Regions from separate parts of the Homo sapiens genome. Here regions 1 and 2 are each reported to be linked to region 3. The links are microRNA targets in miRTarBase. Many come from high-throughput screens and were not tested one by one. Region 3 holds a microRNA gene; each other region holds the end of a gene's coding sequence. Distances are from middle to middle.
What was found. The annotated mature microRNA hsa-miR-4266 reads CUAGGAGGCCUUGGCC and lies in region 3 at 1,157-1,172, opposite strand. An mRNA with a match to its seed (bases 2 to 7 or 8) in the 3' UTR can be bound and repressed. Matches are read on the target gene's strand: a 7mer-m8 pairs with bases 2 to 8, a 7mer-A1 pairs with bases 2 to 7 and ends in A, and an 8mer does both.

Region 1 (4,121 bases), not on the chromosome of region 3:
GGCCAAGGGGCAGGGGTGTCGGGAGACCAGGTGGGTGGGGTCCACCCTGCACTGCAAAGAGCTGGAAGGGGGCGGGGCCAAGGCAGGAATGGGGCGAGGTGCTCACCTTGCAGGAGGGAGTCAAGGAGGCTAGAGCCCCACTCGAGGGAGGGGAGGCCGGGGAGCCAGGAGGGGAGGGATGGAAGAGAGAACATGGCAGCCCCGGAAGGAGCCCCAGCCTCCGGCCAGGTCTGCGTAAGGACAGACCAACGTCACTGGGCAAAGGTGTCGGTGGAGGGAAGGAGAGAGGCTGGGAGGGGTCAAAGGCCCAGGGGAGGGGAGGGGAGGAGAGCCAGGGGTGTTAACCCTTCGAGGCCCAGAAGGGCAAGGTCCCAGCTCCAGGCACACGGGGTGCCTGGAGCCAGCTGCTGCCCGGGCTCCCCATTTGGGCAGTGTGGGGTGAAGGGACAGGTGTCTCTGGGCTGGTCTCTGGTCTCTGTCCCTGCTAAAGTCTGGCATCCACTTTACTTGAAATCTTCCTTGAGGGAGGACAGGCGCAGTGGCTTACACTTGTAATCCCAGCACTTTGGGAGGCCAAGGTGGGCAGATCACAAGGTCAGGAGTTCGAGACCAGCCTGACCAATATGGTAAAACTCTGTCTCTACTAAAAATACAAAAAATTAGCCGGGCGTGGTGGCAGGCACCTGTAATCCCAGCTACTCGGGAGGCTGAGGCAGGAGAATGGCTTGAACCCAGGAGGCGGAGGTTGCAGTGAGCTGAGATCACACCATTGCACTCCAGCCTGGGCAACAGAGCAACACTCTGTCTAAAAAAAAAAAAAAAAAAAAAAAATAGCAATCTTCCTTGAGGGCTTGAACCACCCAATGCCCCTTCGAAGTCCCAGGCTCCATCTGTCCTGCCCCGCCTTAGGTGTGGGTCCTGTCCTCTTGCAGCCTGAAGTGTGGGCTCTGACCCTTCAGCCCAGGGTCTGAGAGTAGGGACTCTATCCCCCCATAGCCAGAGATCAGCTGTGCCCTCTCAGCCTGAGGTCTGGGGCTCTCTTCCCCCACAGCCAGGAGGTCAGCTCTGCCTGCTTTTTGTAAGGTCTGGTTCCAGCTTCCCAAAGCCTCCGGCTCTGACTCGGTGTGGAATCTCCTGCAGCCCGAGCCTGCCTGAGCCTTCTCCTCCCACAGGCCGGGGCCGCCCTTCCTGATGCTCCTCCCTGGGTCCACTAGGTGGCAGGCCTCACCTGGGTCCAGCAGGGCGGAGCTGAACAGGTGGACCACGGCTCCCATCCTGCTTTCACAAACAGAAAGGGCAGAGGGAGCAGAAGGTGGGGGTCAGGGATGGGGGAGACTGAGATTCACCACAGAGGAGGGTCGTTGAAGTAAACAAAATATAAAACTTTATTGGTTTGGAGTGTGCAGTAGCAGGTGTTCCTGGGAGCGGCCCTTACAGACTTGGGGTGTGGCTGGGAGGGCAGGTGGGGCTGCTCGGCAGCAGTCCTGCCCCTGCCAGGGAGTTGGCATCCATCTCTGCAGTGTGAAGGTCGGTGCGGCGCTGAGAGCACACCCACGGGGAATGGTGCTCAGTCTAGAGAAAGGCCCAGGGTCTGCTGCTGGCCCTGCCACGTCGCTTCCCTTTCCCGGGCCTCAGTCCCGGGAACAATGGGCACCTGGACTGAACAATGGGCACCCGGAGCTTCTTTCAGGCTTGTCAGGATATGTGCAAATGCCCACAGGGCGGGCAGCTGGGAGGCCCTCCGTGAGAGCCCTTAGATGATGTTGGCTGAGGCCAGGCGCGGTGGCTCACGCCTGTAATCCCAGCATTTTGGGAGGCCGAGGCGGGCGGCAAGGTCAGGCATTCAAGACCAGCCTGGCCAACACAGCGAAAGCCTGTCTCTACTAAAAATACAAAATTAGCTGGGCATGGTGGCGCACACCTATAGTCCCAGCAACTCGGGAGGCTGAGGCAGGAGAATCACTTGAACCTGGGAGGTGGAGGTTGTGGTGAGCCGAGATTGCACCACCGCACTCCAGCCTGGGCAACAAAGCGAGACTCCATCTCAAAAAAAAAGATGATGTTGGCTGAACTGCGGCCCCTGCAGAAGTGCATGTTGAAGTCCTACCCCCTAGTAGCTCAGGATGTGACTGTATATGGAGATAGGCTCTTGACAGAGATAATTAAGTTAAAATTGGGCCAAGTGAGGTGGCTCATGCCTGTAATCCCAGCACTTTGGGAGGCCAAGGCCAGTGGATCACTTGAGGTCAGGAGTTCGAGACCAGTCTGGCCAACATGGCAAAACCCCATCTCTACTAAAGATACAAAAATTGGCCGGGTGTGGTGGCACACACCTGTAATCCCAGCTACTCAGGAGGCTGGGGCAGGAGAATTGCTTGAACCTAGGAGGCCAAGGTTGCAGTGAACCGAGATCGTGCCACTGCACTCCAGCTTGGGTGGCAGAGTGAGACTTCATCTCAAAAAAAAAAAAAAAAATTAAAGTGGGGTCATGAGGGTGGGCCCTAAGCCAACATGATTTGTGTCCTTATAAGAGGAGGAGATCAGGACCCAGACGCACATCGAGGGACCACCATGTGCAGACACAGAGAGAAAGCAGCATCTGCAAGCCATGGACAGAGGCCTCAGAAGAAACCAGCCCACTGACACCTTGGTCTCCAGCATCCAGCCTCCAGAACTGTGAGAAAATACATTTCTATTGTCTAAGTCGCCCAGTCTGTGGTTCTTTGCTACAGCTTCTCCAGCAAATAAGGCAGGTGACGACGCCACAGCCTCCTGGTGCACCTCAGCCTTTGCCATGGTACAGTGACCCCTATGGGCAGTCCGGGCCCATGGGCCTGTCACAGTCACGCACTTGTCAAGCGCATAGGTCTAGGGTGAGCAGGGCTAAGCTCCAGTCCTGGCTCTGCCACTTCAAAATTGTGTGGCTGTGGTCAAAGCCCACCACTCTAGGCCTTGGCTTTCTAATGGTAAAAGAAGTAAAAGTGCCTGCCTCGTGCTGCTGTCTGAGGCCTAAGTGAGCCGATGTATGTAAGTTACTGGGCCTATGCCATGTGCACGCCCGCAGCAGTTGCTATAACTGAGCAAGGCTCTGGGATGTGGTGACCCAGTACGCAGTACAGAGAAGGAAGAGAACTGTCTGGAAGACAGAATGGGTGGTAACTTGAAGTGGATGCTCTGGACCTGGGTGGGCCAAGGGGCTGGATGGACCAGAGCTGTCCACACTCTCCCGGGACCTCTGGCAGGGCCTGGGCCCATGGCCCGCCCCGGGACAGCCAGTTGTCCTGGAGCAGGCTCTCACTTCCGGCCAAGTGCCGGCCGTGTCAGGACGTGGGGGTGAGGGCCGTCGTCTAGGTGCCCTTGTGCTGGGCCCGCCCAGCCAGTTTCCGAAGCTCGTCCCAGAAGAGCATGCTGAGGATGGTGTGGGGGCCCAGGCGCAGGTAGGCGGGGCCCAGGCCCTTGTAGAGTGCCAGGGGGCCCTCCTGCCGCCAGATCTTCACCATGCAGTCGGTGAGGCCCCCATAGAGCTGGCCCTGGGGAAAGACATGGGGTGAGTGTTACTACAGGGGCCTTGAGGCCCTGGCTGGCACCACATCTTGGCACACGGGTCAATTTCACCCCCACACACCCTATGGACAGCACCTTTGTATTGGACACACCTGTGAGGCTGCGGCGCCATGGGAAGGCTGTGGGGTCAGGCCTGAATTCCAGTTCTGGCTCCTCCCCTTACCAGCTGGGGGAACTCATGCAAGTCAGTTGATCTGTCTGAGCCTCAGCTTCCTCATCAGGAAGATGAATGTGATTATAAGGATGGAATAAAATCCAGATGTGAAAGTGCTTAGCCTGTGCCTGGGACCCGGGGGCTCAGCAAACAAGCCCAGTTAATGTGTTTGCATACCTGGCCTGTGTCTGCGTGTCTCTGGCTGTGCATGTGTGAGTGTGAGTGTGTGAGAGTGTGTGTGTGTGTGTGTGTGTTGGGGGGGTGCTCCCAGCTCCCCACGGTCTCCCCTAGACCCGCCCCTGCTCACCCTGCCAGCTGTGTCCACCGGCTGATTGTATAGCCGCGTGCTGACCACATCGAAGGGAGTCATGACGACAACCACGGCTATGCTGCTGATCATGCC
Region 2 (4,102 bases), 91 Mb from region 3:
GCAAAACAAATATATCTTTATTATGTCTTTCAAGTTTAAAGGAAAAATTGCTATTTCTAAAGGTTTTAAAAGTAAGGGTTGTGCTATTGACACTTTAAATTTGTTGGCAATTCATAAAAGTTAAAATGATTCTGTTAAAAGCCTGGAGTGTGCTAACGAAGGGATCTGGTTACAAGAATTATTTCTTACATTGGCTATATGCAATTCGTGATATTTCACTGACATTTTGGGTTTTTTTTTAACTGTAGGTTTTATTTTTAACTTGTTTTTTAAACTTTCTCCAGCTTTATGGTTCCATAATGTAATTTCTGAAGAGTTTGGAGTGGGAGTGAATATCTTTTGGAAGCACCTTCCATCTGAATGCTATGATAAAACAGATACCTATGGAAACAAAGATCCTACAGCAGCATCAAGAGCTGCACAAATTCTGGACAGAGCCTTGAAAACACTGGCCGAGTTACCAGAGGAATATAGGGACTTCTATGCACGACGAATGGTCCTACACATTCAAGACAAAGCCTACAGCAAGAACTCTGAGTAAATAATGAAGTGAATGCAATGCACATTAACACTTTAGTAAGGTATAACGATATAAATTAAAGATTTTGTTAAAATAGGAAAGATACATCAGATTTACAGATTATGTAAGTACGAAGGGGTGTTTGTGTGGATTCTACTTGATACAGATTGTTATAATTAAAGAATGCTGTGCTGGGACCACTCTTTAACATTCAGATGCTGACCACTAAAAGTCCAACTTAAAATGACTTAAAAACAGTAAGAAAATATATTGATTCACAATACATGAAATCTATTGACAGAATGTGCTGCAGTGTTTCTGATCCAATGATTCAGTAATGTCATCAAGAACCTTGGGAACCCGCCTCCACACCCCACCCCCTTTTCAACCACAACATTGGCATCATCCTAAGGCTGGCTACCCTCGTGGTCATGGGATGATTGCCAGTAGCAGTTGGAGCCTTGTGCATCTTCATTTACATGCAGCGGAAGAGTCAGGCTGGATTCTAGGGGCCCTGTCCTAGTATGAGAAAGCTTTCCCAGAATTCACTTTCCATATCCTTAGGTCTCATTGCTCTAAAGTAACTTAGACCTGTCCATCCCTGAGCCAGTCACTGGCAAAGGGTCTAGAATAACCTTTAGGGCAGTCAGGTCCACTGGAGCTGAGAGTAGAAGTGGAGGCCACATGAGGGATATATGGGGACAGAAAGGATAGTTTTTTTAAAATCATGGTTCTGATAGGAAAAACATGAGCAACGCACAATATCTATTACATTTGCCTAGAAGCAGAATTTTTTGAGGAACTTTAAAAAATGTACAGATACCTAGGTCCCAACTTTGTAGACTGATTCAAGAGTGTTTGGGATTTGGTATAGGAACTTAATAGACCTCACAGGGTGTTCTGATGCATAATCAGAGCTGAGATCAACTGGAGTTGATGATAGTGACTTGGATTATTAGTTTTGTGATTAGTGCAAAACAAATGTTTAATCTGATCTTGACTTTTCTTGCCACCCAGTATGTCAGGGTGGTTTTTGGTTTTTGAATGTTACAAAATAAATAATTTATACCTATGTCTAAACCTTAGCCTAGTTAAAGATTTCCCAACTATTTTTTCCACCTATCCCTTTTTTAAAAGAAAAATTACTTAAAGAATGAATAAATGAGATCCTAAAAGTGTTGTCATCGAAGACAGTGAGCCATTGTGTGTGGATCTCTGCTTTTGTTTTGTACCTAGTAATTATATTGCAGTGTCATTGAAGACCACATAATCTTCACTGAACATAAATGTGTTCATCTAAAGCAATCTCTTAGTACATCAATTTGGTGCATTTTAATTAGAGAAAATCATTTTCTCTATTGAAGAGAATCCATCCACTCATGTCCTATAAATTATAGTAAATAAGGAAAAGCATATATAACATTCTGAATTTCCTAGGTGTCTTTGGAAACAGGTAAGTTACTCAGGTGAATAAAGGTGAAAAAAGTCTTGTCAGAAAAGGAATGATTATATTAGCCAAATTTAATTACCAGGTTTTGATCTTCATTAAGCAAAGCAAAGAACTTCTTTACTGATTCCTTGTCCTTCAGTAAGGAAAAAGACAAAACTCTCCTTAGTTTACACATTATTTATGGTCAGTTTTTAATAAATCTTGTTTTTTTTCTTAACCAGCAAGAGAATTGATACAAAGTATAAATCCAGAGTCATGTAGAAAACTTGGAAGTATTAATAAAACAGATTACAGTTTGTGCACTGAATAGTCATCTTAATTGATTGTTTAATGGAGAAGCAAACTGGATGACCTTAGACAAAATAACATTTATCTATGAAGCTTATTTTCCTCATCTTTAAAACAGAACTACAAAAATGCAGAGAGTTCAAGGGCAGGCACATAGTTGATAACTGGTGCTAGTTCTTCTATTTAATTATATTCCATCTTTGTTGAGAGATTTGAGGTAGCTCCTGTTGCAGTATTAATTTATAATATTTTAAAAGTTAGAGAACTTTCCTTTGGGATGTTTTAAAATTATTTCCCTGGTCATAATTAATATTAGGGTCTGTTTATTTCAAATACAAAATATTTTAATCTTTTCTTCCTACTGGGTTAAGACCAAATGAGATGTTTGTTTTTAATGTATAAAATCTTATACAGTGTATGTTAGCTGCAACTTCTCAGGAATTCTGAATCTTAGAACTTTTTTATTGAAAGAGATCTTAGAAGCCATCTAACCAACCCAGATTGCTTAATGATTGTCTGGGTTCACATAGCTATGGGTGATAGAAACCGGGATTCGTTGTGACCAGTAATTCTCCATTCTCCCTAATGTGCAGCACATCTCCAGTACTTCTGAATAGATTACACAGCTTTTCTTTGGCTAGTTTGGGGGCTTGACCTGATGCAAAAAGGAATTTTTTTCCTCTGCCAACAAAATTTCTCACTGCACTGCTTGCTACACAGACAAGATTCAAAATAAAAGTAATGGTGGGTCAGGTGCCATGGCTCATGCCTGTAATCCCAGCACTTTGGGAGGCCGAGGTGGGCAGATCACGAGGTCAGATCAAGACCATTCTGGCCAACATGGTAAAACCCCGTCTCTACTAAAAATAGAAAAATTAAATGTTACATGAAAAACATATTTGAAACTGTACTGCCATTTGTGTAAAACAAGGTATGTGGTGTGTGAACATCTTATTTGCATATGCATATAATTATCTCTAAGGATGCACGAGAAACCAGTGATAATTATGCCTCCAAGAAGAGGTTCAACTAGGTGGGCTGCTTAGAATCTAGTTTTGTATTATTTGGACTTTTGTTCACATTATCCTTTCAAAATACATTTTAAAAATACTATATGCACCGAGGTGGGTGGATCATCTGAACTCAGGAGTTCGAGACCAGCCTGGGCAACATGGCGAAACCTTGTCTCTACCAAAAATACAGAGAATTAGCTGGCTGTGGTGGTGTGCGCCTGTAGTCCCAGCTACTCAGGAGGCTAAGATAGGAGGATCACTTGAGCCTGGGAGGTGCAGGTTGCAGTGAGCTGGAATTGTGCAACTGCACTCCAGCCTGGGTGACAGAGTGAGACCCTGTCTCAAAAAAAAAAAAAAAAAAAAAAATATTATATGCAGAGCTGGGGAGTGGTGGTCCACACCTGTAGTCCCAGCATCTTGGGAGGCTGAGGCAGGAGGAGTGCTTGAAGCCAGGAGTTCAAGTTCAGTCTGGGCAACATGGGGAGACCTGTCTCAAAAAAAAAAACTAAACAGAGTGTAATTATTAGCATTTCATAACATTATTTGTCTTGGTATTTGAATACATTAGAATTCTATTTGTCCTGTAATTAATTTCTAACTCACTTTGATAAAATACCAAAACAAAGGAAACAAAGTCAACAAAACTTAATTTGTATCCTTCATCCTTTTGAACAGCAGCTATGTGAACATTTGGAAAGAACCTTAGTAAGGCGGCTTTTCTATCACCTATAAAAAGTTGCCAACAGACATCAAAGGAGTTGACAAAAAAAAAAAAAAAAAAATGCAGGAAGCTGGAAGGCAGGCCTGGATGGAATTGGAACTGTGCTGCTG
Region 3 (4,121 bases):
ATTAATGATGTTTCGACCGTCAGCACTGTCTAGTTCCAGAAGTTTCCTTTTGGGAAGTTTTCATCTCCCCAAAAGGAAACTCTCTACCCATCAGCAGCCACCCCGCTGGGCCCCTTCTTCCTGGCCCCAGGCCACCACAACCTGCTTTCTTTCTCTGTGAATTTGCCCACTCTGGAGATTTGATATAAGTGGAATCATCCGATACATGGCCCTTTGGTCTAGCTTCTTTTACTTCGTATTTTCGAAGTTCATCCAGGATCATAGAGTATATCAGAATTCCATTCCCCTCTATAGCTGAAGAATGTCCCACTGTATGGTATTTCCACATTTTGTTTATCCATTCATCTGCTGACGGACATTGGGCTGTTTCCACCTTTTGGCTCTTGTGGGTAGAGCTGCACTTAACATTTGGGTACAAACATTTGCTTGAACACCTGTCTTAGATTTTGGGTGTATACCTAGGAATGGACTTGCTGGGTCACGTGGTCATCCTAGGTGTACGTTATTGAAGAGCCGCCCTATGTTTTCCACAGCAGCCCTTGGATTTCACTTTTATCTACAGTAATGCGGAAGAAGGGGGCTGATTTGTGACAGGTGGGCAAATCTGCAGTGTTAAGAAGAGGCAGGAGACAGGGAACCCATGCAATCCACATACTTCAGAGGCAGGTGGTGCTCCTGGCTCACACTGTAGGTAATATTTGCCCTGTGCCTGTCAGCTTCATCTGTGTGCATGGGCTGAGCTGGGAAGAACCAGGGGACCTGGAAAGGGGTTAGGGAGCTTGTCTATGCCAGCATCCTTGACACCGGCATGATATCAGGATCCCTATTCCTCTTCACAAGGCCCAGGCCTTACCCCAAACCTGCTGTACATCCATCCCAAGGGGGGAGGCTGGCATCTGTGTTTCTTGCTGCATTTATTTAAATGCAGTTCAGCCTAATGCACAGCCCGGGATGAGACTGCAGGTGAAGTGTCATATTTTAAGATGTGCTCATGAGAGGCATGGATACAAGGCCAGGCCTCCCTGGCTGACATTTGGGTGCTTGCCATGGGCCAGGCCCTGCCCTCCTTGCTGGGTGAGCGCTGTACCAGTTGGTCATCGCAATGGTCTTAAGCATCACTGAGGAAGACATTGAGGCCCAGATAGGGACTGTCCTTGGCCAAGGCCTCCTAGCCTTGAGTAGGGGCCCCGGCCAGCAGTGGGGCTCACTGCCTCTCAGGCTCAACATCCCAGGGGGATGGGAAGAAAACATTCTGGGAGATGAGTGGAGAGAGACTGATTCTCTGTAGGTGATGGCATGTGCCTTGAGCTGAAAGGTGCTTCCGGTTTCTTTGTAGCGATGGGGTCAGCTGCTCCAGGCAGCTGTGGCAGCATGAGTGAAACAGAGGGGCTTATTCCAGTGCATGTGGGGGAGAGGAGGGAGGTGGGCTCAGCCAGAGCAGAGGGATTTGAAGAGTGGCAGTGGAGGAGATATTTGAAAGGTGTGTTGGGACCCGTATGCAGGGTGCCGTGTTTGGACTTTGTTTTGTAGGGCACAAGACAGTTGAAGGCTTTGGAACTGGGAGGAAAGTGACAAGAAGGAGTACCAGGCTGTGGGACACTGGACACTGAGAAAAGGAAGAGGCTATGGGGGAAGAGAGGGGCCGTGAGACCCGGGGCAAGTGTGGACTTGGGGGACACAGTAGCGGAAAGCAGCAGGCCTGGGCAGTCACCTAACTGCAGGTGCCAAGGTCGTGGTCTGTGTCCCGGGAGACCAGCGGGTGGGTGTCCAGAGATGGGGGCACCAGAACCATGTGGGTCATGTATATTTAATGCTGCCTGCTTGAGAAAGCAGGGGCTTGGCATATGTTTTAGGAGAAAGTTTTATTTCTTGAAATGGTTAAACTGATAAATCCTCAGTTATCCCAAAGGCTCAGGGTTCCAGAAAATGGCTCCGTTGAAGGGTGAATCCCATAGATCTTATAAGAGTGATTGTAACCCTGCCTTGGTATAGCCAGGGAGCAGAGATAGAGGGTAGGAACCAGATTGCCCTGGGGAAAGCAGGTCAGCCTGAAACGGCATGACCTTTGATGTCACCTCCGTGCAGGAATGAATTTCTCTACCATATGAATAGCACCATCAACTAATACATTTTTATTATTCCTGCCACTTCATAAATAGTGTCTCCATCTTAATTTGCATGTGTCTGTCACTCTCCATGGTCTTTAAAGGTTTGTATAAACTTGTAAATTAATCCTCCTTTACATGCATAAGGCAAACCAGCTCCTTGATGAAACCTTTGATGAATCTTTTTACAAGTGCATAATATCCACCAGCCAATTTCTTATTCTGTAAATTATTTTGCCATTTTGGTTTTGTTTAATTTAGGGTGTGACAGTACTGGCATCATATTTCTGTCTAGTGAATAGGAGAATCAGACCACCAAAATATTAGAGGAGACCCTCTGAGTTGGTAGAGATTGAAGCAGAGCTAAGCCCTCGCTGGTGACCAAAAGAAACTTCGTCTCCCCGTATGAATCTCATTCTTGGCAAAGCCCACAGTTTGAGAACCCCCAGCAGGCATTCCAGAGCTGCACTGTCCCATAAGGTAGCCACCGACCACACTCAGTGAACAGCGACCACATTGAAGAGCCCATACACGACACGTTTCCATCAGTGCAGAAAGTTCCACTGGACAGCACTGCTCCACAATAATGAAGAAAAAGGAAACCTGTTTTACTTTACTGAGTATAATTAGCAGAAAGTCTTATTTGATGACTTTTCTCTGGGTCCCCCTTGTCAAGTGTGAGTCCTCTGAGTGGAGAGGGCTATAGTCTCTCCATAGTAAGGCAGAAAGACGTGCCCACTGGGAAACACCCAGCAATTTAATAGGGCCCTGGGTCCAACACCAACTTGGAGTTCTTAACTAATGCCAAGCCAGGTAAAGTGCTTTGTTCATTGAGTCTTGCAACTCCATTAGTGATTCAAAACAAAGTAAACCTCTGTCCCTATCTCTGTAGGATAGTTGCAGGGAAGCAATAGCTTGTGTCTGTAGAATGCACTTGCTTTTACTAAGAGGCAGTAAGGAACTGTCTCAGTATGAAAATGTGCATATACAGAACGACCATCCGTTTTTGGTGTAAGCAAAGGGGACCATGTGTGCCTGTTGTGCACTGTCTGTGCAGAACTTTCAGAAACTGTCAGTGATGCACAAGGACGTGTGTGTCCAGAGAAGAGACGCCTGTGCAGGCTTTCCTGGCAGTCTATAAAGGGGCGAGCTCTGTCTCAGTCCAGGCTTTCCCACCCAGGGTTCCTCTGGGGCTCTTTCATCTCATTATGTCTGGCTATTGTGACATTTAGAGTATTCAGGTGAATGCCGGTTGCTGCCTTGGTGTGGAAGGGACGTCGTCGCTTTTCCACCCTAGAATGACCTTTGATCTTACCTGTCAGGACGTGATCTAGGCATCAAAGCCACCAGTTCCCAGAACGTCACCTGCGACCAGCATAGGTCTGTGTCTCTGGGTTGTTTTGGAGAATATGGAGCCTTTTGAGATGCATTAGCAGAAGTCTTTTTGGTCTGACTGTGTGAGATTATATGTGCATGCATCAGGGGCTTTTTTCACCCAAATTGCAAAGATTCCCAGTATTTAGAGATTAGATGTGGTTAGAAAAGTGCATTTCCAGTATGCAATTGTAAAGCAGGAAAAACCTAAAGCTTTCAAAAAGAGAGGGCAAGGCAGGCTGGAGGAGGTGTTCAGAGCTGGTTTTGCTGAACTTTTGGGCCTGGGGAAGGTTCCACCAGTGTCCTGGCTCTTGGGCTTCATCTCTCGCAGCAGATCTGCACAGCTCCAACTGGGCTATCAGTGCTGTGGGCCTCGGTCCAGGAGGCTGGGTGGATGCTGGGAAGGGGATGGAGGGAGGACATGTTGCCAGGTGATGGTGGCTGGCTCTACATGCCCCTGCTCCTGGAGAAGCCCTGGTGCCATGTTTCTCCCTGGCTCTGGCTTCCTGTCTATCACAGGAGGAACACAGGTGTGATGTCAGTGTGATCTTCACTACACACAGCCTTTAACAAGGTAGCCCATGACATGGAGAGAACTTATCACTCCTCTTAGAGATTTCCTCTGCTTTTCTGTTTTAAATA

Region 1: miRTarBase lists SLC25A34 as a target of hsa-miR-4266. Seed matches in the 3' UTR shown: 7mer-m8 at 2,383-2,389.
Region 2: miRTarBase lists TYW5 as a target of hsa-miR-4266. The part of its 3' UTR that is shown has no 7-base or 8-base seed match.

Annotation. Positions count from the first base shown.
Region 1 is chr1:15,738,633-15,742,753 of GRCh38, reverse strand. SLC25A34 (solute carrier family 25 member 34) reads right to left here. Exons shown (of 5, transcript NM_207348.3): 4 at 4,026-4,121; 5 at 1,362-3,530. The coding sequence ends at 3,348. TMEM82 (transmembrane protein 82) reads right to left here and starts at 255. Exons shown (of 6, transcript NM_001013641.3): 1 at 107-255. The coding sequence starts at 194. SLC25A34-AS1 (SLC25A34 and TMEM82 antisense RNA 1) reads left to right here. Exons shown (of 2, transcript NR_149050.1): 2 at 2,532-2,703. RefSeq lists enhancers at 1-674, 1,076-1,145.
Region 2 is chr2:199,929,506-199,933,607 of GRCh38, reverse strand. It overlaps TYW5 (tRNA-yW synthesizing protein 5), which reads left to right. Exons shown (of 8, transcript NM_001039693.3): 8 at 285-4,102. The coding sequence ends at 541. Among named protein-coding and RNA genes, the nearest start is that of C2orf69, 20 kb to the right of the region's middle.
Region 3 is chr2:109,312,425-109,316,545 of GRCh38, forward strand. MIR4266 (microRNA 4266) reads right to left here and starts at 1,201; the gene lies at 1,147-1,201. All of the region lies in intron 1 of SH3RF3 (SH3 domain containing ring finger 3), which reads left to right. It also overlaps a transcript of RANBP2 not described here.